Linked DNA regions of Homo sapiens. The protein of the gene in region 2 purifies or fractionates together with the protein of the main gene of each other region. This does not show direct contact. Each region holds a gene or a part of one and is shown on either strand. Other genes may lie near its edges. The genes, in order: ITGA6 and PSCA.

Region 1 (11,861 bases), on a different chromosome or scaffold from region 2:
ACATAACCTACAATCCAGTTGGGAGAGATTAGATCATGTCCTAAAGATAGTGGATCACAGTTTAGCACAAAACATCAGAATTGTCAGACACAATGTGCTACAGACATCCAAAGGAGTTAAAGACATTGCTTTAGTGTAGGATGGGGAAATTTTAAACTGGTTCTTAAGCTATGATTATATTCTTAAAATGGGCTGATTCAGCACTAAATCAGTGTTTCAGGCACAATTGACCCTGTCATCTAAGCTTACAACAGTATTTTCTGTTTTGTCTCACTGTCCCTCTTGAAAATACCAAATAATTCACTGGCCTCACTGTCCACAGTAATATGTTGAGCCGAGGTCTTCAGGAAACCATGCGCCATAATTCTGGTACTATTTGGTTATGAAAGCTTAAATTAAATCTCAATATATTGTTATGCTAAGAGAGTCTATATAACTGAGAACACAGAATAACCACTTCTTTATAATAAAGGAATCCTTTTATATAAGCATTTATCCTGACTTCCCCAACAAATTATTTATACCATATAAATACTTTGACCCTTTTTTTCCCCAACCCTGTCATTACTTGGTCTCACACCAGCCTGTGTTAAAATTAAACTTGCCTATTTCTGCTTTCTTGCAGAGTCCTAAGACTTCCTGTAAGTCTCGCTGCCCGTTTTGGCTTTTTCTCTACTCTTAGCATTCAAGGTGACCCAGCAATCCCTGGAAGATGGCCCTGGGCCACATGGCACTCCGAGTGAATAAATGCAAGGAAGCAAGTGCTTAGGTACACATCCTGAATACAGCTCTGATTCTTGGCTAGCTACAGCCACACTTCACTGGGCTTTTTCAGAAGGGAATGGGGTGGAGGCAGGCAAAGAAGGACGGACCCAGAACTTGTTCCAAGGCCAGCTGGAATAGAGTCAATAGTAAGAGTCCAGGCACCAATATTTAAATAGATAGCCCTGACCTATGCATATGGGAAGCAGTTTGATAAATCAACACAATATAGTACACTTCCAAAATTCAGATGCTTGCCGATTTCTCTAGGTCTGAAGAACATTTCTGGCTTTTCCATTTAAAAATGGCATGAGCATGGGTCAGAGATTCAAATCCACATTCTGTTAAGATTCTGCTCAAGCTGAACTTTCAGCTTCAGTTTCTTCATCTGTAAAAAGAGGCAGTTGGACTAGATGATCTCTAGTTCAGAAAATATGATTTTAAGAGATGGAACATGACAAGTCTGAGAAAAGTCAAGAACAAACCTAGTAAGGGTCAGAACAGAACAGACCGCGGGCCTGGAGCATTTCTGGAAGACAGTGGTGGTCAGAGAGAGAGACCCCATAAAGAAGAAAATGAGGGTTGGCAGAAATCCAAAATGACTTCATGAGACTATCTCTTATAGATCTCCTTCTTCTAGGTTCTTCCCTGTGATCATATATAGATCCATCTCTTCCCAGAAGAGCTAAGAGTGATGATTCATAGGCTGGATATACCCACAGTCATCATCACATACCTTCCACCTCTGGGAATGACTCAATCTTAACTACCTAAGAGAAATTAAAGAGTCCAAGGTGCTCAGACCCTGACCTCAGTCACTCGGCGGACCAACTTGGCTGACCATTGAGTAATCTTTTGGAGTCCGAAACTTCTTTAATATACAGCCTGAAAACCTGGATGAAGTTTATGGTATCTACTTCAATTTTATAGTCTCCAAAGCTTTAGGAACACCCGACATGTTTTGGGGCTCTCTGACACAATATTATTCTGCAAAAGTCATAACTGGAGTTTAAAATGTGACTGAATAGTTAAAGGCACTATAGAAAATTTGAACTACAAACATTTATGATAGGTCTTCTATGATCGTGCTTTTATCTGACCGTCCCATGCATCTGATATTTTACTTCTCCTTCCTCAAAGTCCTCTGTTCATTAAACTCACTTTTGTTATAAGTCTAATTAAGACCTATTAAAGTTAAGTTGCTTTGAACATGGGTTTCATAAATATGACTGAGTTTAAAATATCATTACCCAAAAACAACCACCTTTGGCTTTACTCTCAGGCAATCTTAGAATCACAGAATGTTTAAGACACCTTGTAAGGTACCTGACACACAGTAGGTACACAATTACTGCTTTTTAAATGATCATTAACAGCTACCATTTAGTCAGCAAGTACCCATGCCAGACAGGCATTAAGCACTTTGCATATTATCTCTTAATCCTCATAATAACCCCAGTAAGCAGTAATATCTCCATTTTACAGATAAAGAAATTAAAGCTCAAAGTAAATTAACAGCTGCTAATAAAAGGCCGAGAAGGAATCTCAGCTTAGGTCTCTCTCCCACCAGGTCCCTGAAAGACCCCCACTGAGTTTTTCCATAGAGTTTAGGAAGCTGGTCCAGAAGTTTTCTCAGTCTTACTGGCTCTGCCATTTACACCCACATTCTTTACTGTCAAAGGTTGACAACTGACCTGTGCTATGGCCTGTGTGTGCTGGTTCTCCTGGGAAGACCAATGCTATTCCTGAAGCTGGAATAAAGCTTTACAAAAGCATGGAGGTGGGCAGCACGTGACATAAACCACAGCCTCTTTAAAGTGTGGTCACTGCCTTTGGACTCTAGGAAACATACAGTCTCCTTATACGGGGCCTCTCCCCTCTGTCAGCTGCTAAGAAGAGCTTTCCTAGAAGGCATCAGACCCCATTGCAGGCTTATCCTTACCTCGGGAGGAGTTGCCTCAGCTCTAATACCAGAGAAGCCCAGCAGCAGTAACAAGTTTTAGCAAGCATGCTGCTAACCTTCACGACACAGATTCCTGGCAAAGTCACGTTTCGCAAATCTCCACTGCCAGGATATTTCTTGTCCCAGTACTTTCCCTTCACACTTTTTGCTTGAACAAGTATTTCAAGGAAGCCACCGGTTTCAGTGGGGCTCTGGTGCAGAGAGAGAATGCCCAGGAGAATGAATTCCCTCTGCTGGCCCACAATCATTTCTGCACTAACAAGCTCAAATTCTACACACCAAGTATTCCGAGACAATAAACGTCATCTATTAACTGAGTTAACAGGAACCTTTCATTTCAGATTTACAGCTTAACAACAATTATTTCTGAGAGAAAGCAGAGTATAAGCAGCTGGCCAGGCATATAGCCTCAGACCACCCTCCTAGAGCCTCCCCACCCCCAGCTAATTTCTGTGCTTCACCTAGCAGGTGTTATCAGAAAAAAAAAAAAACTGACTAAAATTCAGGGGCTGCAACATTCACGAATTCCAAAGTTGTTAACCGCTGAAATCAAGAGGTTTCCTCCAGTTCTAAAATCCCATTCGCCTCTCCTAAACACAAAATCTCTTCACTGTGGCTGCACTTTGCTTTCTCCGGTCTGTTGGTCCTGGAAGGTCCTTAGTTCAACTCAAGGCCTGGGTGGGGAGGGGAGACCTTTTGTTGCTACAGCCTATTTTTCAGTAGCACAGATGAAGAATGCAACCCCATAGCGATTAAGGCGACTAAGCGCCAAAATACCCTCTCCGGCTTAAATAGCCGATCATGTGGGAACCAAACACTGTTTAAGAAATAAAAGGAGAGGCCAGTAGTGCCGGTCTCCTCTTTCTCCTGGGAGGTTTACCGCTACGGTGGGGGGTTGTCCCTTACAAACCTTGTTTGCAAAGTCCAGGCTCAGATCGGACATTTTGCTTTAACCCCTTGGCTGTGCCCGCCCAACGCAGGAGCCGAGCGGGTCTCGGGTGCGGCCGAGTACTTTGGGGGCTGGGCACATCACTCAGACTTGTTTTCTCAGCTGATCTAGTCCAGCGAACAGGTGTTTGGTTAATTCCCGCCCCCACCCCCATCTTTTTTTTTTTTTTTTTCAAAGGCATGTAAAAGTATCTCCTAAGGAGCGCCCCCGCCTTGCTGAGAAAGTCATGCAGGACACATGGAAAGTGGCTTTCCAACTTGTGCGGGGCGCGCCAGTCTGCGGGGGAGACGGGGTGCACCGTGAGTTTGGGAAAGGCCTAGACCATCCTGGAACTACGCTCCCTGCAAACCCACAGCAGCGCTGCGGTGACCCTGAACGCCACCCCAGCCCCAAACACACACGTGAAGCTCAGCAAAGCGTGCCACCTGCCGGGGTCCCAGCAAACACGCCCGGAGGGAAGAACCGGCGGAAAGCACTTTGTTTAAAACAGAAAAAAAAGTAAACTCTCCCGGGGCCCAGCCTAGCCCTCGGGTTCTCCTCCTTCCCGAGCTGAATGGAGGGAGGCGCCGCGCGGGGCGGGTCAGGGCGGGGAGCCGAGCGCGCTGGGCGCTGGGTGCGCCTCGGCCGGCCCGGGCGCGACCCACGGGCCAACTACTCCCCGGGGCCGGCGGGAACAGGGCGCGCCCTCGCCTCAACTCGCGCGCAGGCCGGCGCCCCAGTGGGGGTGGGAAGGGTCTGGGAACTCACAGCCGCTTGTCCTCGGGCTGCAGTTGCCAGTGCATGGCCAGCGAGAAGCCGAAGAGGCTCCCGGGGTCTCCATATTTCCGGATCACGTTGTCCTCCCGAGTGTCCAAGTTGAAGGCTGCGCCGAGCCGGGACAGGAGCCCCGCCGACAGGTAGAGCAAGCACAGCTGCCCGGCGGCGGCCATGGGCGGACGCACGGGGAGGGGAGCGGGGACCTGCAGCGGCCGCCCTGCGCTCCGGGCTGGGTCCGAGGCTGCCGCGCTGCTGCTACCGCAGCCACCTTCGCCTCCTCTCGCCGCTGCGCCCGGCCCCACCCCCGGGACGGGTCGCGCTCTCCGTCCGGCCGCTCCCCCTCGCGGGCAGCTCGCGACCGCTGAATGAGCCCGTTGTTCTCTGGAGACTCGCAGGCGTTTTATCAAGTGACGAGGACGCCGGCCCCGCCCCTCCCCACCCTCTCGCCCCTCCTTGCGCGCCCGCGGCCCGGCGCACCGCCCGCACCTTACCCGCCGGCTCTGGCGTCTCCAGCTGCCCGGTACCTGCCCGGAAGCCACGACGTGGGAGCCCCGGAGGCGAGCTCGCGGCGAAGCAGCCCCACTGCGCCGCCCTCTGTGGACAGAATTGTGGTTGCCGAGTAGCACAGAGCGAGGGAGACTTTACTACCCGTTATAAAGAGAAGTGCAGGTGATGCACCGGGCCTCATGGCCTGAGCAGCCTGTTCTTGCAGATGTGGGCCCACGTGCAGATGCATACGTCATTCATTCATTTCTACAGGTGTTTATGGAGCGCTTAAGGCGTGCCCAACACTTGGGGACTACAGCTGTGTAGACTGTTCTGGGTCCTCAAACACCTAACAACCCTCAAAAATGATCACAGCGCACACCTTGATAGTGCTGTATAATGTACACAACCCAGCCATTACCTCAATTCATCCTAACAGTCCTATGAGGTAGGTGTTTCTTTTTGCAGATCAGAAAACCGAAGTTCCGCCTTGTCCCCAGATCACCTAGGATTTTGCCCAGGTGACCAGGAGAGCTTGTGGAAGAAGTCACGCAAGTCAAGGATGGGTTGTTTAAAGTGGCGCCAGGAGCTCAGGCGACGATGCCGTTCTTTCCTAGCCCCGGACTTTCAGAACTAGTTGTGGGGAGAACTGCTGGGCCAAGAGACAGCTCCGAGTTCTGTGTAGGTGGCATGAAGGCTCCTGCCTCCAGGACATGAGGCGGGGCTCCAGTGAGGTGTTGGCCCTAGGGGCAACCTTATCCTGCAGGGGTTCTTAACCCGAGGAGAGGTAATTAATTCAAGAGTACTGTGAACTTGGATGAGAAAAAATTTACGTCTTAATTTTCACCAACCTCTGACATTTAGCACGTTTTGCCATTATGAACGTAGACAACAAACTACAGTAGCAGTAGGATAAGTATTTATGACTTAGTAATCACTAGAAACCATAGGTTTTTACATCACATCACAGTTGTTGCAAGTATCTCAAATAACAGTAGTTATTAGACAATCAGCCAGATATTATATGTCAATAATGAAGCATATATATTGCTCTAGCACAAATTTTTAAAAACATTTTGTTAGCTACATTTCAATATTATTGGCTTTTTTTGTAACCTCTTGTGGTTTCTTTTATGTATTTAAAACCCTTATTCTGAGAAGAACCCCATGGTTTTCAGCAGCCTGCCAAAGGGGTCCCATGGCATGAAAAGGTTGGGACGTGCTGGCCTGAAGCCTTCTGGAATGCCTTGGGGAGCCCTCTTTGGAATCTGACATCCCTGCATTGGAAATACAAGCAGGGTGCAGCCCCAGGAAAGAGCAGGAGCTGTGTGTGCATAGGGGTAGGGGTGGCCTCTTCTTCACCTCAAGGAGTATTCAAGAGAACAGCATGTGCCACTCAGAAAAGCTGCGTGAACATCATCAAGGGTCCCCACAGGTGGTAGCAGCTGTCAGAGTAAGTCCGTCAGTATATTAGGGGTGTGTACCACTTCCTTTCCAATCAGTAACTCCAGTCAATTATAGTCCAAAGTGGGGTGCAGTGGTTTAAATTCAGTAGATGATTTTGGAGAGCACACAGTTTTAACAAATATATCTTGATAAGGTTGAGAAACTATTGGAGACAATCTAGTAAACTAAGAAGTACTTGCAACGTGATTTTTCATGCAAATAAGTTGCAAGTTAGCCTTTTCCCTTCGTGTAAAATATGTACTATTCCAGAGAGATGGGGTCCAGACTATTATAGGCATAGTATAATGAACCTCACTGCAGAGTGTACTCAGCCAGGAGCTGGTGATTTGGCTGTAATGGTTACTGAAATATTCTGAATTGGTTGATAAAAGCTGCTGCCCTTAGTTCCTCACAGGCAACCATCCCTGCCCTGCCCATTTTCCTAGGACTAAGCAACTTCCTCACAACCTGGCAAATGAAAGTTTAAGCCCTTAAGCCCTGATGCAGCAAGGGCTCCCTCTGCTTGGATATCCCCATGTCACACCAGCTGTTAACTATTCTGAATATCACCCCTTGCTTCTAAGAGTAATTCTGTGGACCATTGATTCCTGTCTTCCCAAGATGTGTTTAGTGGATGATGTATGAATGGCCAGAGTTATTTACTTTATCCCAAACACAGATTGTGCTCAAATTGAAATTCTAAATAATATTAAATTTAAATATCACAACTACATGTATAGCACTACTGAAGCAAATTATGCTTGTGTGGGAAGAGGTTCAGATAAAGAAAAACAAGGCTGGGAGTCTTGTTCTGGAATATGTCAAGTGCCCATCGCAAATGGAAAACTTATTAGCTCAGTGCTCCTACCTGCCACCTGTCTCCTACCTACTTGAAGTTGAGTCAAACTCTCACTCTCAACATAGATGCCGAAGATACTTGAAGTTGAGTCAAACCCTCACTCTTGACATAATTTATTTGAAGATTGTCAGCTCCTTCTGACTATAACCATCAAGTTTTGGCCAGGCACAGTGGCTCACGCCTATAATCCTGGCACTTTGGGAGGCGAGGTGGGAGGATCACCTGAGGTCAAGGGTTCGAGACCAGCCTGGCCAAAATGGTGAGACTCCCCCCCACCCAACCCCACCACCCCGTCTCTACTAAAAATACAAAAATTAGCTGGGTCTAATGATGGGCACCTCTAATCCCAGCTACTCGGGAGGCCAAGGCTCAAGACTCACTTGAAATGGGGAGACAGAGGTTGCAGTAAGCCAAGATTGCACCACTGCACTCCAGACTAGGTGACAGAGCAAGACTCTGACTCAAAAAAAAAAAAGAATCAAGTTTTGTGACTCAGTTGTTATTTCCATTGTAAAACAGAGTTGGGTGTTTTACAAAAGTGTCTTACAAAAAGGAGGTTTAGAGGTCATTCTGGATCCACTGAGGACACATCAATCTCTGGGGCCAAAGGAATAAAAGAATTCAGAGCCCTAAAAATTAAAGACCTGGGGAGGGAGTACACAGTTTTAATGGGGAAAACAAAATCTGGGACAGGAAGATACTTGTCTGGAACCAAAGGGAGAGAGATAGCTTGGTGATAAAGGTGTGCTGAGTATATAGGGCATGGGGCATGTGTGTGTGTGTGCTAGCACACATGCCTATGAAAACAAGACATGCACAGTGCAAGAAGGGCCCTACAAATCCAGTTAACTGGCAGAACCGTGTCTAAAAAAAAAAAAAAAGGGCCGATTAGAAAACGAAATAACACATCACAGAAGAAACTTCTATAAACTGAACATTTTTAATTAAAAGGCAGTGAAAGCTATGCATAGAGGCATTTGCTCAGGTGAGAGCTTTTGAATTCTTATGTTTTACCAGTACACTTTTCAAAATAAAATTATTTATTTGTACTATATCCCACCCTCTGTAGAAGAGCTTTCAAGATAATTTTAGAATATTGGTCATTTATGGAGAAGTCTGAAGAATCCATGTCATACCTAATATATTTTCCATTCCCTGAGACCTACTTTAATCATTTTGTTATCATGTTCACTGTTATATTGACTTCATCATCACTAACAGCAGAGAATATATTTGCTTTTTTCATGCAACATAAAAACTAGTTATTAGGCCGGACGTGGTGGCTCATGCCTGTAATCCCAGCACTTCTGGAGGCTGAGGCAGGCAGATCACCTGAAGTCAGGAGTTCGAGACCAGCCTGGCCAACTTGGCGAAACCCCATCTCTACTAAAAATACAAAAATGAGCCGGGCGTGGTGGAGGTGCCGTAATTTCAGCTACTCAGGATGCTGAGGCAGGAGAATCGCTTGAACCCGGGAGGCAGAGGTTGCATTGAGCCGAGATTGCACCACTGCACTCCAGCCTGGGCAACAGAGCAAGACTCCGTCTCAAGAAACTAGTTAATGAAAACATCTCTTTATTCTCTTTCTGTGGTTACATTATCCCAACAGTTTTACATATTTCCTGGAGCCCTTTAATGTGAGGCCATCCATGAGAGTGGGTAGCACATGGTCTCTGGAACCCAAGTTCCTTATTACGGATCCTGCCTCTGCTCCACGCTAGCCACAAGGCCATTTAATCTCTCCATGTCTCCGTTTTCCCAGCTGTAAACCGGAAATAACAACATGTCATCTACCCCTCAGTAGTTGCTTTCTCTTAAGAATTAGTAGAGTTGATGTTATCTAAAGCACTTAGAATGTTGCATCAAAACCAGAGCTCCCACCTGTGTACAGTCTTTCAAGATACGGCTTTTATGAGCTATGCATTGACCACAATATAGTTTCGTGAACTAAACTTAATAAACTGTTCTGACTAGGGATTCTACTATTCAATGGCAGATTTTTTGTTCCAGAGAAAGAAACAGAGTTTTCCCATACTGTTTTTTTATTTGTCTTTTTATATTAGTGTTCAGAGTTTTCTCTTCGACACTGAAACTTAATGCTTTTGTGTTTAAAAAAAAAAGTGACATTTTATTCGCTCTAAGTCACAGACCATTTAATAGGGGCAAACCTGCCTTTGGTTGGGATCAGGAGACTCCATACTGCCAGCTGTTCCTTATTTTAACACCTAGATCTATTTTGAAGTAAATTGCATTTGAATGTTTCTAATTCACTTACAATGAGCTCATTAAAATGTAGAGTGTTTCACGTTGCCATTTTAGGTGGGCAAACTTTTTTCAAGTTTGTTTTGAGGGAATTTTTCTAAGCCAGGAAGCCATATTTTGCCAGCCAGAAATAAACTCCAACCTTAAATGAATCAAGTTAAATCTAAAACTGAGTCATAAGGCTGGGGTGAAATCCCCACCTGACAAATTTGGTTTTCCATCCCCACCTTCATTAGAAACAAACATGAAGCTATGTACATCTCATGCCACACGCAATGCACTCTTGAAAGACCAAACATGGGGTAGACATTTTAAAATTAAGTTCTTTAAAGAAAAAAATTCATTGCTTTCTATAAAAATATCTCCTGTGTTGGTGGGGTGGGGGGAAAGGCTGATTTTGAGTTAGGACTTAAGCCAGTGATCTGTGGAGTGTATCAGGTGAGATTAAGGCAAACACTCATGGAAGGCAGCTTAGCCTCACCTTCTTCCCGGCTGAGGGCCTGGAGCAAGTTACCCAACTTCTTTAGGACTCAATTTGTTTTTTTTAGAGTGAATCTCGCTCTGTCGCCCAGGCTGGAGTGCAGTGGTGCAATCTCAGCTCACTGCAACCTCTGCCTCCCGGGTTCAAGCGATTCTCCTGCCTCAGCCTCCTAAGCAGCTGGGATTACAGGCACATGCCACCATGCCCAGCTAATTTTTGTATTTTTAGTAGAGACGGGGTTTCACCATGTTTGTCAGGCTGGTCTCGAAATCCCGACCTCGTGATCTGCCCGCCTTGGCCTCCCAAAGTGCTGGGATTACAGGCATGAGCCACCTCCCCTGGCCTAGGACTCAATTTTCTAATCTGTAAAATAGCCAGAATTCTTACCTCATCAGGTTGTTATAAGGATTAAGTGAGATTATATAAGTGAAGCATATAGTACAATATCTACTATTAAATGCACGCTGAAATAAAATAGTAGCTGTGAAAATGTAGGTGAAGAAAGTATACTAGAAAATAAAACAAGAGAGGACTTCAAATAATGGAGATTAAACATAGGGAGAGGCAATATGCAAATGAGGTCACTTGTGCCCCATATTTGCGTCATTTAAATGGTCAGCATAAACCATTCCTTATCGTTATAGCTTGGCAAATATAGTCGTCCCTCAGTATACACAAGGGATTGGTTCCAGGACCCCTGCACATAACCAAAATCCATGCATACTCAAATCCTGAAGTCAGCCCTGAAAATCCACATATAGACAAAGTCGGTACTCCACATTCACCAGGTTCACATCCCGCAAATACTGTATTTTCAATCTGAGAGTTTTTTTTTTAAAAAAATCCATGTGTAAGTGGACCCCTGTGGTTCAAACCCATGTTGTTAAAGAGCCATCTATAATCTCTGTCATATGATAGTTTCCTGATGCCAAGGTCTGCATAGAAACAAGTTTGTGCTTCACTCTGGGTCTGAACCATTTCTGTCTTTTGCCAGGATTTGGAGAAGTAAGAGTGGGTCCTAAACTCTGCGTCCGCCGGAACTTCAGAAGAGACAAACAGTTCAGATGACAAGCTAGCTAGGAGGCCTGGGGAGAATAAAGAGACAAAAGCACAGGGACATTACTGAACACGTCCTTATCACAACCTGCTCAGCCAAAGAGAAAGTTAGCACTATGAATTATCCAAAATCACAGCCAACTTATCATTATTTTGTTTGGAGCTTCATCTTCTTGAATACATCTTGCTGCTAATATTAAAGCAGCTTATACTACTTAAAATAAGCTGACAGGATAGTTATGAGGACATGTCACTTGATAGGGAAATCAAATCTTGAACTTTAAAATTTCTTCAACATTTTTGAATCTGGAAAGCAAGTCATTGGAAGGTGAAAAGTAGTCACTATATTTAACAGGTCCCTTCTTATGGCACATTAACAAAACATTTGAAGCAATGCAATAAATTCTGCCCTGTGAACACACTACTCTATAGAACAAATAACAAAGAAAGGAGGAAAAGAACGTAGAAATCTGAACCACCTAATAGCCAAGAATGTCCCTATTGCAATGGCTTTGTTGTCCCAGATCACATGCCCAAAAGTGAAGGGCCAAACGTTTCTGCATTATACAACATATTTCTGAACTTTCCCTGGTGAAAAAGGAGAAAAATGGGTTCACAGATACTTATATCACATTTCATGTTCAAAAATCTTTTCAAACCCTAAAGTCAGTGCATCTCCACAAAGCAAAAGCCAGTGTCCTAATTTTATGTCTGGAGACACTAAAGCAGGGACTTTTCCTAAAAAGAATGTCAGTCTCTCTGACCAAATTAAAATTTGGGATTTCCCGACTTCTGATTTCATAACCCAGACCACTCCATTGAACCCTTCTTCAGCCTTGGC
Region 2 (11,803 bases):
CGGCTGGGAATCGTTTCAGTCTAACCTCAGCAGAGCGCAGATCACCCATCTTCCTAATGAATAACGGCTGGGAATCGTTTCAGTCTAACCTCAGCAGAGCTCAGATCCCCTCATCTTCCTAATGAATAACGGCTGGGAATCGTTTCAGTCTAACCTCAGCAGAGCTCAGATCCCCCATCTTCCTAATGAATAACGGCTGGGAATCGTTTCAGTCTAACCTCTGCAGAGCTCAGATCCCCCATCTTCCTAATGAATAACGGCTGGGAATCGTTTCAGTCTAACCTCAGCAGAGCTCAGATCCCCCATCTTCCTAATGAATAACGGCTGGGAATCGTTTCAGTCTAACCTCAGCAGAGCTCAGACTCCCCTCATCTTCCTAATGAATAACGGCTGGGAATCGTTTCAGTCTAACCTCAGCAGAGCTCAGATCCCCCATCTTCCTAATGAATAACGGCTGGGAATCATTTCAGTCTAACCTCAGCAGAGCGCAGATCCCCTCATCTTCCTCATGCAGTGGTGGCCTTTCGTTAGCTTTACAAAGATGGCTGAGTTTTGGAAAAGGGCTGTTATGCCCAGAAATGACTAAGGGCAGTTTGGAGATTAACTGGCTGTGGGTTAGATCAGATCTCCTTCACCATCACCATTTTCTCACTGTTAAAACTTTTACAAAGGCAGTTTCCAGTGTCTCCTGGGGGCTGGCTCTGAGGACTCCCTTCCCCCAGCCATGCCCCAAGTTCGCAGAGCAGAGCCCCCAGACTATGCCTGGGCCACTGCACCAGCCTGCTTCCCTACTGAGCGGAGCCTCCAGACCATGCCTGGGCCACTACAGCAGCCTGCTTCTGCACTGGCTTCCCCATCTCCACCCACAGTCAGAGTGGCATTTGACAGGGCCAGTCACTCCCCCTGCCCAAATAAGCCTGTGCACTCTGAATACAGCTCAGGTCCTCGCTGGGCCACAAGGCCACGCCGGAGCTAACCCCTCACTGTCCTCTCCGAAGCCCATGGGTCATCCCCCGTGCCTGCTATTCCCTCTGCCTGGAGGTGGGCTTGTATCCGGCAGTGTCCTTTGCTCAGGTGCCGGAGGCCTCAGGTTGGGGCAGTCCCAGCCAGCCCTCCTTCTGGAGGTCTCTGGATGACAGGCCTCTCATAGCAGGGGTGGCTGGGGGTGCTGGTGAGGCTGTGCCCAGCTGGAAGGGAAGGGTGTGCCTTGGGTCTCCTCCCCAGTCTGAGTTCACTCCAGGAAGGGGGAGTGGCAGGAGCAGAGGGTGCAGAGTGGTGGGGGTGGTTCTGAGGGTCATTGGAGGCCAAGGGGCCTGGCTGGTGGGGCAGGGGCTGGGGCAGTGCCCATCTCCACCTTAGTGCCCAGGCAGGAGGGGAGCTGGTTTGGGGCAGGGCCCTGATGACGCCTTTGTGAGAGCCAGGAAAAGGCACCTCCTCTGGGAACACAGGGCCCTGGGGGAGTTAGAGATGGGGAGGGCCTGTGGGCCCCAGCTGGGTGGGCTTGGGGAAGAACGCCTCTGAGGGGCTCCAAGCTGCACAGCCCTCAGGACTTGGTGGCCCCAACACACCCACATTTACACACATGCTTTTGCTTACACAACACACAACCGGTGCACACACCCACACTCACTTGCATTTACACACATGCCACACATTTGCACATTTGATCCACATGCACAGACAAGCATCCTCTCTCACACTCTCACACACACTATGTGGCACACTCCCATGCCCACATAGTTGGCACATACAAACCCTCACAGTCACATATCACACACACACAGCTTGCAAGTCATGGCCTTAATTTCCAGAACCCAAATGGGGGCTTGGCACTGAGTGCCCCCAGCCAACCCATGTGCATCAGTGGGTTTTCCTCCTGATCTGCAAGGGCGTTTTTCCAAAGCAAAGATGCTAAAAACTGACACCAGCGTGGCTTTGCAAGTGACATGCTATCTTTATTTTTTTAATTAATGCTGCATGAAATAAAAAAAATTACACACAGGGATGTGTGTTCCAGCATGGGACCGTGTGGGGCCCCAGAAGGTGGTGGTGGGACTCCCTGCAAGGTGAGTCAGCTCCCAGAAGCCCCAGGGCCTGGTCCGGCTGTCCTGGCCCCGGCCTCATGCCCTGCACTAGGTGGAAGACAGGATCTCCAGGGAACCCGGCTGCTTTGGGCCCATGGCAGTGGGGTGGGTGGGCAGAAGGCCAAGAGCAAACAGGAAAATCTGGAGTCCCTGGAGGCAACTGGCAGAGAAGAGGAAGGAGGCCAAGGGTGAGTCACACTGAAGCCACACTAACTGTTGTTATTGTACATGATTCTGTGGGTCAGGAATTTGAGCATGCTAGAGTCAGATGTTTCACAGTGGAGGACGCTTAGTCATGGGGCATACCAGGCACATGGTGGGACTAGAACCCAGGGCCGCTGGATGGGGGTTCCCAAGGCAGGGTCTCCTGGGACAGGAAGGCTGGTTCCATCCCTGGTGTGACTGCTTACCACCTCAGGGACGGGATCACTTGGTCTCCCAGGACTTGGGTGCTGCTGGTGGGGAGTGGAGATTGGCATGGAACTGGGGTCGGAACTGGGGCCTGATCCCCAAGATGCATGGGGCTCCCCCAGGTGCTCCTACCATTACTCAGGGAACCTTGGATCTCTTCTCAAAGACCAAGTCCATTCTGGCACTGGGGAGGGATCAGAAAGAGAGGAAGAGAAGGAAGAAAATACACTAGTGTGTGATCACCCAGGGGGTTCATTTTGACCCCTGGCAAGATACAGCCGATTTATCAAGACAGGGGAATCACAATAGAGAAAGAGTTTAATTCACACAGAGCCAGCTGACCGGGAGACTGGAGTTTTATTATCACTCACATCAGCCTCTCAGCCCCTGTCCACCGGATGAGGATCTGCAGGAAGCCATGCCCCTTGTGGCAGAACTTCCCAGAAAGGAGAACTGCCAGAAGATCCAGGCTCAGTTTAGGCTCAGGGGCTGCATTCAGTGTATGGCCAAAGTGTGAATGACAGGGGACAGGGATTCGCCTGTGACCAGGGTCAAAAATCAGAGGGTGACCACAGTCAGGGTTCATTCTGTGACCAGGATCAGGGCTCAGCCAGTGGCCAGGGCCAGGGCTCAGGGTGGGGCCGTAACCAGGGCTCGTTAGGTAACCAGGATTAGAGTTCAGACTGACCACAGTGAGGGCTCAGTTTTGGGGTGAGGTCAGAACCCAACCTGTGGTCAGGGGTGGGGCTCTAGGAATGTCACAGCCATGGTCTTCCGTATAGGAGCCATGACCACGGGGCCATCCTCAGACCAGCCACACCCTCAGTGCGGCGGATGCTGGGGCTGCGGATTCTGTGGTGGGGATCCTGTGTGTTGCCCCCTCCTTGGCCTGCACCCACTAGAGGCCAGCAGCACCCCTGAGCTGGAATAAGCAGAGATGCCTCCAGACATCACCAAACATTCCCTGGCGGTGCAGAGTCACCCACGTGAGAACCACTGCCTTACAGCAATCACTGTGTATCAAATCAGATCAACAAACACTTACACACCTATAAATATTTGAGGACGGAAAGTTCCAGGCTGGCACCTTGAACACAGAGACAGATAAGAAAACGTCTTGTGCGGGAGTGGCCAGAGTCCGGGCGAGCTGGGGCGGGGGGCGGAGGGAGGATGGGACAGGGGCTGTCAGCCACACACGGAAGCAGTTCATGACTGTATGAGGCCCCTTGTCCTGAGCTTACAGGACATGGGCTGGAGGGCGTGTCCAGAGGGAAAGTTCTGGGTGGGCAGAGTGGGCAAGCAAGGAGTCTGGGGGAGGCTGCAGTCACCCTGCATGGCCTCCAGTAAGTTCCTGTCCCTCTTGGGCTCAGGCTCCTCACTTGCCAGAGAAGAGACAATTTCCATGGAAAAGAGCCCAACCCAGTGGGTTCCAGGGAGGCAGGCAGGAGAGACCTCAGAAGGACAGGGGCTGACCTGGAGCCCCGGGGGAAGCCCAAAGGCAGATTCCTGGTGCCACTGAGTCCCAGGGAGGTCGGGTCTTGCATCGTCCCTGCCCCCATCAGTAGTGTCACCTTGATCCCAGACTCAAGGTGAGACAGTGGGAAGCTGATGTCCCCTGAACACCCCAGAAACATCTACCAGCCTTCCTGGACGGTGCAGGCCTTCCTGGACGGTGCAGACCTGCTGGGAGAGGGTCCGATTCCCCGAGACTTTTCCTGACTGCAACATCCTCACCACCCCCTAAAATGTGCCAGAGCCTTTTCAGGGGCAAAATCGAGGAGAGGAGGTAACAATGAAGGCCGGACAACCATCAGCGGGGACGAGAGAGCGTCAGGGGAGAAGGGGCCGGTCTCCCTCCAGACACACACTCGGCAGCAGGCAGGGCCACGGACCACAGTGGACCTACCAGCTTCCGGCAGGAACAACAGCATACCCAAGAGGGTTGCCAGGCAGAGTTATCTAACTCAGGGTCCATGTACAAAGGCAGGGGTCAGGTTGAAGGAGACAGCAGCGGCCACAAGTCCCCCTCAAAGCCAGCCAGCAGCAGGAAGCCACCAGCCCCTCGGGCTTGCAGGGATGAGGGGGAGAGCACAGTGACCAGAGGCTGGCCAGAACCCGGGGGACAGGAGAAGCCTGGCTGACGGGACCTGGGCCTTCTCTAGAGGGCCATAGCCACTGCCACCACCACCCAGCCACTGGCAGGAGAGCCTGGGCCTGCTCTAGAGGGCCATAGCCACTGCCACCACCACCCAGCCACTGGCAGCAGAGCTTGGGCCTGCTCTAGAGGGTCCTAGCCACTGCTACCACCACCCAGCTGGCTGGCAGGAGAGCCTGGGCCTGCTCTAGAGGACCATAGCTACTGCCACCAACACTCAGCCGGCTGGCAGGAGAGCCTAGGCCTGTACTAGAGGACCATAGCTACTGCCACCAACACTTAGCCAGCTGGCATGAGAGCCTGGGCCTGCTCTAGAGGGCCATAGCCGCTGCCACCACCCACCGCCCAGCTGACTGGCATGAGAGCTTGGGCCTGCTCTAGAGGGCCATAGCCACTGCCACCACCGCCCAGCGGGCTGGGCCTGCTCTAGAGGGCCATAGCCACTGCCACCACCTCCCAGCTGACTGGCAGGAGAGCTGGCCTGAACTTGCCTCTTCCACTCTCTCATCTCCTGCCTGTGGGAGCTGGACCAGCCTCCCAGGACATGGAGCAGGACGGAGAGGGGATCTGGGGCAAACAGAGGCCATACAGCCCTGGGCCTAGCCGCTGCCTCCTGCTACTGCAGAGGCTGCTAAAAGCTGCACTTCCCCGACTCGTTTGCAGCTAAAGTTCCAAGCTGAGGGGGTCACTCAAGGTCCTGAGGGTAAAGCACCTAGCCCAGGGCTCAGCCCACACTGAATGCCCCATAAATGAAGGCCCGTCCAACAGGGTCTCCTCCCCAGGGAGGCTGTCCCCTGTGTCAACAAGAGCCAAACTCTGTAAAATATTTGAAGACATTTATTCTGAGCCAAATATGAGGGACCATGGCCTGTGACACAGCCCCCAGGAGACCCTGAGAACATGTGCCCAAGGTGGTCAGTGCACAGCTTGATGGTACCCATTTTAGGGAGACATGAGACATCAATCAAATATATTGAAGATATACATTGGTTTAGTCCAGAAAGGTGGGCAGCTGGAACTGGGGGCTTCCAGGTTATAGGTGGATTTAAACATCTTCTGGTTGGCAATCGCTTGCAAGAGTTATCAATAGAAAGGAATGTCTGGGTTATACGGGGTTGTGGAGACCAAGGCTTTATCATCAGATGAAGCCTCCAGGTAGCAGGCTTCCGAGACAATAGATGGTAAATGTTTCTCATCAGACTGAAGGCCTGTGTTGATGTTAACGCTGGCTGTTCCAGAGTTCTGAAGGGAGGAGGGATAATGAGGCTATCCAACCCTTTGCTGTCATGGCCTGAACCAGTTTTTCAGGTTAACTTCGGAAAGCCCTTGCCAAGAGGAGGGTTCCACTCAGATGGCTGGGGGGCCTTAGAATGTTACTTTTGGTTTATACCGGAACAGCCCCTGCCCCTGTCCTTTGCAGCACCTGCTAATGATCTGTCAGTGACGCTGTGACCAAGGCTCATCACCCTGCGGGCCGTGGGCCCCAGAGGGCGGCACAGCTTCTATAGGAGCACAGGGCCCAGGGAGGTGCCCTCATCCTTGGCTGGAAGGCCGAGGCCTGGAGGAGTCTGGAGAAAGGGTCTCCCTTGTCTGGCCTTGCACTGTGAGGTGGGGGAGGTGGGAGAGGCATAATCTGGGTCTTGAGGACGTTTCAGCCCTCAGCCCGGGGTGGCTGAGATATGGCCCTGGGTAGGCTCTGTCCTCCAGAGGTGGAAAGAAGGACAAAGGGAGAGGGAGGTGCAGGTCGCTCAGGGAGGAGACTCGGACCTGCCCAGCCCCGGGGCCCTCACTGGCTCCAGGAAACCCGCTGGTGTTGACTGTGGGCAGTCCAGCCTCTCCCCATTTGAGGCCATATAAAGTCACCTGAGGCCCTCTCCACCACAGCCCACCAGTGACCACGAAGGCTGTGCTGCTTGCCCTGTTGATGGCAGGCTTGGCCCTGCAGCCAGGTGAGGCCTTGGCTGGCCCCCAGCAGGGAAGGGAGCAGGGGTGAGCCGGGGAGGCCAGAGGGATACCTGCAGGGCACACGGAGAGGAGGGGAAGGAAGGAGGAAGGGAGAGGAAGGGGGTGAGGCTCTTGCCCTAGCCTCCGCTCCTCCAGGGAAGCTCTTGGCACGACCAGGCAGCGACCTGTTCCCTGCCGTCCCCTGTGACCGGGGCTTGCAGGGGCAGCACGGAGTCACTCTCCTTCACCACCGTGGGGCAGGGCCTGGCTCCTAGGGGGCAGGTAGACAGACTGACGGATGGATGGGCAGAGATGCTGATGAGGAGCTGGGAGACATGGGACAGGAAGCCTCAGGCTAAGAAGTGGTTTTTGGGGCACAAGGGGGAGGTGCTGGGGGTGTCCTGCGAGGACCCGGGGGTCTACATCCGGCCCAGTCCCAGCACTGCAGCTTCCAAGGGTCCCAGGGAGCTGCTCTGCTTGAGGTGGGACCCTCCCGACCCAGGGTCCCGGGTTCAGTCACCCCCACAGCCGCAGCTTCCTCTTCTGAAACACACGGTCACAAAAGCAGCCACCGAGGGACTAAACAGGGCAACATTTCGGAGGCACTGAGCAGGGGGCCGTGAAGATGGGGAGGAGACATTGAGGGTGACAAGAGGGCGCCGAGGACTTCCTCAGGCCACCGCCATGGAGGCCCACCTGCCTGGGAGCCCCCATTCCTGGGGAGTGCTATGGGGCAGCCTCTGAGGCCCCTCCCACTCCACCCCACAGGCACTGCCCTGCTGTGCTACTCCTGCAAAGCCCAGGTGAGCAACGAGGACTGCCTGCAGGTGGAGAACTGCACCCAGCTGGGGGAGCAGTGCTGGACCGCGCGCATCCGTGAGTGGGGGGACGACAGCCGCCAGGCCTAGGTCTCTGCCACTGAACTATTAATCTTTCTGGCCATCTGTCCGCATCTGTGTGCTGTTTTCCTTCCACCTGTCCCCGACCCGTCCCGCACCTGCACCCCCAACAATCACCCAGCATCTGTCCCTCCAGCCATCCTCCTCCATCTGCCACTCCTCCACTCATCTGTCCCTCCCCATCCTCCATCTTCCACTCCTCCACCCATCTGTCCCTCCCCATCCCTGAGCTCACTTACTCACTCACCCCATTTCTGACGCTCAGCGGGTGGTCCATCTGCCTCGGACATCTGGATAGGGCTGAGACCAGGGCCGAGACCAGGCCCTCGCACTGCTTGCAATCCTGAGGCCAGCCCAGGGGGACTCTAGAGCATTAGGCAGGGTGGGACAGGAGGAGGCCTGGGGCAGGTCAGGCAGGTGAGCACACAGGGCAGCCCCATCCCCGGATCCCGCTGCTCCCCAGGCGCAGTTGGCCTCCTGACCGTCATCAGCAAAGGCTGCAGCTTGAACTGCGTGGATGACTCACAGGACTACTACGTGGGCAAGAAGAACATCACGTGCTGTGACACCGACTTGTGCAACGCCAGCGGGGCCCATGCCCTGCAGCCGGCTGCTGCCATCCTTGCGCTGCTCCCTGCACTCGGCCTGCTGCTCTGGGGACCCGGCCAGCTCTAGGCTCTGGGGGGCCCCGCTGCAGCCCACACTGGGTGTGGTGCCCCAGGCCTCTGTGCCACTCCTCACACACCCGGCCCAGTGGGAGCCTGTCCTGGTTCCTGAGGCACATCCTAACGCAAGTCTGACCATGTATGTCTGCGCCCCTGTCCCCCACCCTGACCCTCCCATGGCCCTCTCCAGGACTCCCACCCGGCAGATCGGCTCTATTGACACAGATCCGCCTGCAGATGGCCCCTCCAACCCTCTCTGCTGCTGTTTCCATGGCCCAGCATTCTCCACCCTTAACCCTGTGCTCAGGCACCTCTTCCCCCAGGAAGCCTTCCCTGCCCACCCCATCTATGACTTGAGCCAGGTCTGGTCCGTGGTGTCCCCCGCACCCAGCAGGGGACAGGCACTCAGGAGGGCCCGGTAAAGGCTGAGATGAAGTGGACTGAGTAGAACTGGAGGACAGGAGTCGACGTGAGTTCCTGGGAGTCTCCAGAGATGGGGCCTGGAGGCCTGGAGGAAGGGGCCAGGCCTCACATTCGTGGGGCTCCCTGAATGGCAGCCTCAGCACAGCGTAGGCCCTTAATAAACACCTGTTGGATAAGCCAGAGAGACCCTCTGTCCTTGCACACCCCAGGCGGGCACCGGATCCAGGGCTGTGTCTGGACCAGGGCCCTGGTCACATGGGCTGCAGCCTCCGCCCTAACAGGAGCAAAGCTTGGCCCCTGAAAGGAGGACGTCCCTGCAGAGGGTGGGAGGGCAGTTCCCAGGACTTGCACTTGCTGTGCTGCCTGGAGCATGTGGCCAGACCTCTCTGAGCCTTGCGACTCATCTATGACCCCTCCTTGCTGGGAGGATGGACCCAGAAAGTTCACAGGAAGGAGAGCGTTCCGGGGGGAGGGACTGCTACCATTCAAGCTCCTACCCATCCCCTTGGCCTGATTTGAGCACCCCCATTTTTCAAAATTTGTTTTAGAGCTGCACACCCACCATACAGCATTCAAACACTACAGCAGGGTCCCCGGTGACAGGTGGCCTCCCCCAACCCTGAACCCCAGCGCCTTCCCTCTCTGGGGTGCCCATTACACCTCCAGAGGCTTCTTTCTGGGAGAATCTGTGCCCCGTGAGCATCCCCAGGCCCCTGAGTGGGAGGACACCATCCACACTTGCCTTCTGCGCTCAGGGGAAGCCTTTTGCACACAGCCTGCTTCCCGCCCTAGGGCTAGGGGTGCAGCCTGTGACCTGGGTGGGGACCTGCTCAGGGTGAGGCCTCCAAGGGTGTTAGGGGTGGGGCTCGGGGGGCGGTTTCAGAGAAGAGGAGACAGAGGCTCAGGAAAGGGAACGGGTCTGTTGCCCACATCCCATACCGAGCCAGGATTGGAACCCTGGCCTGGAGCTCTGAGGGTGGGTCATGGAGCAGACAGTGGGCAGAGCTGTGCTGGAAAGAGCCAGGCCTCCCGTCTGACATGTGACTTCACGGGGAGACCTCCCTCCTGAACACTGGGGGCCCAGGGTGGCATTGTCAGCAGGGTGCAGCTCCCCAGGCCAGCATCTGAGTGACCCTGGGCACTGGTCACACCCTCCCCGCCTCGCCTACACCCAGCCCAGCCTGCCCGGCTTCCATGGTGAGCTCTGGGCTTCCATGGTGAGCTCTGCCCAACACCTACCCACCCTCCCAGGCCCAAGGCACACTCAGACCTGCCTTGGCCCAGGGCCTGAGTCCAGAGTTGAGGGCTAGGCCATTGTTTTCTGGGAGGGCCCTGCAGACCTGGGAGCCCGCACAGAACTCTCCACCCCTCAGGGCTCAGGTGCAGGAACTGGGGCCTGAGGCTCAGGCAGGTGCTTCTGGCCACACTGTGTCTCCTGAAGCTGCCGGCCCGGGCTTGCTGACCTGCTCTGGGGAGCATCAAGGACGCTGAGTGAGGGAGGCTGGTGCCCTGCCTGGCTCCATCCACTTAGCACACAGTTATCTAACCCTTGGTATGGTATGTTCCACTGCTGTTTCAGTTGCTCCTGGTCACCCTGGTGATAAAAACTGGGAGAAAAAAAGGAAAGCAAGGAAAAAGGATCCAGAATGCTGAGATGGCCAGGGAGGTGGTCTGGAGGCCTGCAGTGCAGAGGCAGGTGCCTCAGTGATAAGAGCGGCTGTCCTCACTGAACAGGACTCAGCCCACTCCAGTGCCCACACAGCAGCCCCTACCCCCTGGTGGAAGGGGGTCCTTCTCCCTGGGGCTTAGGTTCAGAGACACAAGGCAGCGTGCTCCAGGGCTAGGGCCCATCCACATCGGGCTGGGGGTGTCCAGAACAGAGCAAGACAGGACCCTCACACCCTGTTCCCCAGAATTCCTCGCATTGGAATACCTTGGACCAGGTGAGGAGAAGAAGGGCAAGGATGCGGGAGGCCTCTCTGGACTCTCGATGCCAGGGCCAGCCTGAAACCTGTGGCCCCCTTTGACCTCCTGAGCTGTCCCTCAGGTCACGGGGCCTCTGAGCTAAGGGCCTGTGAGGATGCCCCGCCCTGCCCCTCCCTCACACCATGAGGATGGGGCAGGAACCTGCTCTGGCCACGTGGCACATGGGGGACAGAGGTCCTCCCTGTCCTGCTGCCTCCTCAAAGGACAGACGGCTGACCTCTCCAAGGGCAAGGACCAGCCAGGGAGGGCCACCTGCACCAACAGTGCAGGTCGCAGCCCTGGTGCACTCAGGCTCCAGAGGTTGCCTATTCACTCAGGGCCCCACGGCTCCATCTGGACTAGAACCTGCACCTCCCTGTCTTCCCACTTCGCCTCATCTTTAGAAATGATAGAAAAACAAAAAAGAAAAAAGTGCAGAACTCAAATCCCTAAACCCTAGCATAATACCTGCCAGCATTTCATAGCCGTTGGGACGTTTCCTATTGTAATCTAGAAGACACAAAGTTTACCAAGAAGATAAACAAGCAAGGACTGACAATTAGTAATAACAAGATAGCTAACAAAAGGTCCTAGGAAGGGCAGAAGCAAGTGAGGCTCAGGAGGCTGCTTCCAATGGTTGACCAGATACAGTGGAGATCAGAGCCTTGGCTATATTTATGCAACCGGGCAGCTCAGGAGGCTGCTTCCAATGGTTGAGCAGATACAGTGGAGATCAGAGCCTTGGCTATATTTATGCAACCGGGCAGCTCAGGAGGCTGCTTCCAATGGTTGACCAGATACAGTGGAGATCAGAGCCTTGGCTATATTTATGCAACCGGGCAGCTCAGGAGGCTGCTTCCAATGGTTGAGCAGATACAGTGGAGATCAGAGCCTTGGCTATATTTATGCAACCGGGCAGCTCAGGAGGCTGCTTCCAATGGTTGACCAGATACAGTGGAGATCAGAGCCTTGGCTATATTTATGCAACCGGGCAGCTCAGGAGGCTGCTTCCAATGGTTGACCAGATACAGTGGAGATCAGAGCCTTGGCTATATTTATGCAACCGGGCAGCTTGCTCATACATTTTACGCGCATTTTCTTCTATTTGACCTGAGGTGTTTACATAAATGCGACAGGTTTTATTGATTATAGCGCACATTTTCCTTTGTTCAAGCAATAATTAATCTCATGCTAATCTATCATCCATTATTGTATCTGCAAAGGAATCAAGGGAGAGTTTTAATGTATCTAAAGTGT

The links.
Region 1: the proteins of PSCA (region 2) and ITGA6 purify together in Homo sapiens (co-immunoprecipitation; 2 studies listed by BioGRID and IntAct, with this or other methods). This does not show direct contact.

What each region holds. Positions count from the first base shown.
Region 1 is NC_000002.12:172,420,531-172,432,391, reverse strand, and holds the start of ITGA6 (integrin alpha-6 isoform b preproprotein), read right to left. Parts: upstream 4,807-11,861; 5' UTR 4,604-4,806; coding exon 4,422-4,603; intron 1-4,421. UniProt on the Homo sapiens protein: Integrin alpha-6/beta-1 (ITGA6:ITGB1) is a receptor for laminin on platelets. Integrin alpha-6/beta-1 (ITGA6:ITGB1) is present in oocytes and is involved in sperm-egg fusion.
Region 2 is NC_000008.11:142,673,965-142,685,767, forward strand, and holds PSCA (prostate stem cell antigen preproprotein), read left to right. Parts: upstream 1-6,530; 5' UTR 6,531-6,574; coding exon 6,575-6,599; intron 6,600-7,362; coding exon 7,363-7,470; intron 7,471-7,956; coding exon 7,957-8,168; 3' UTR 8,169-8,761; downstream 8,762-11,803. UniProt on the Homo sapiens protein: May be involved in the regulation of cell proliferation. Has a cell-proliferation inhibition activity in vitro. May act as a modulator of nicotinic acetylcholine receptors (nAChRs) activity.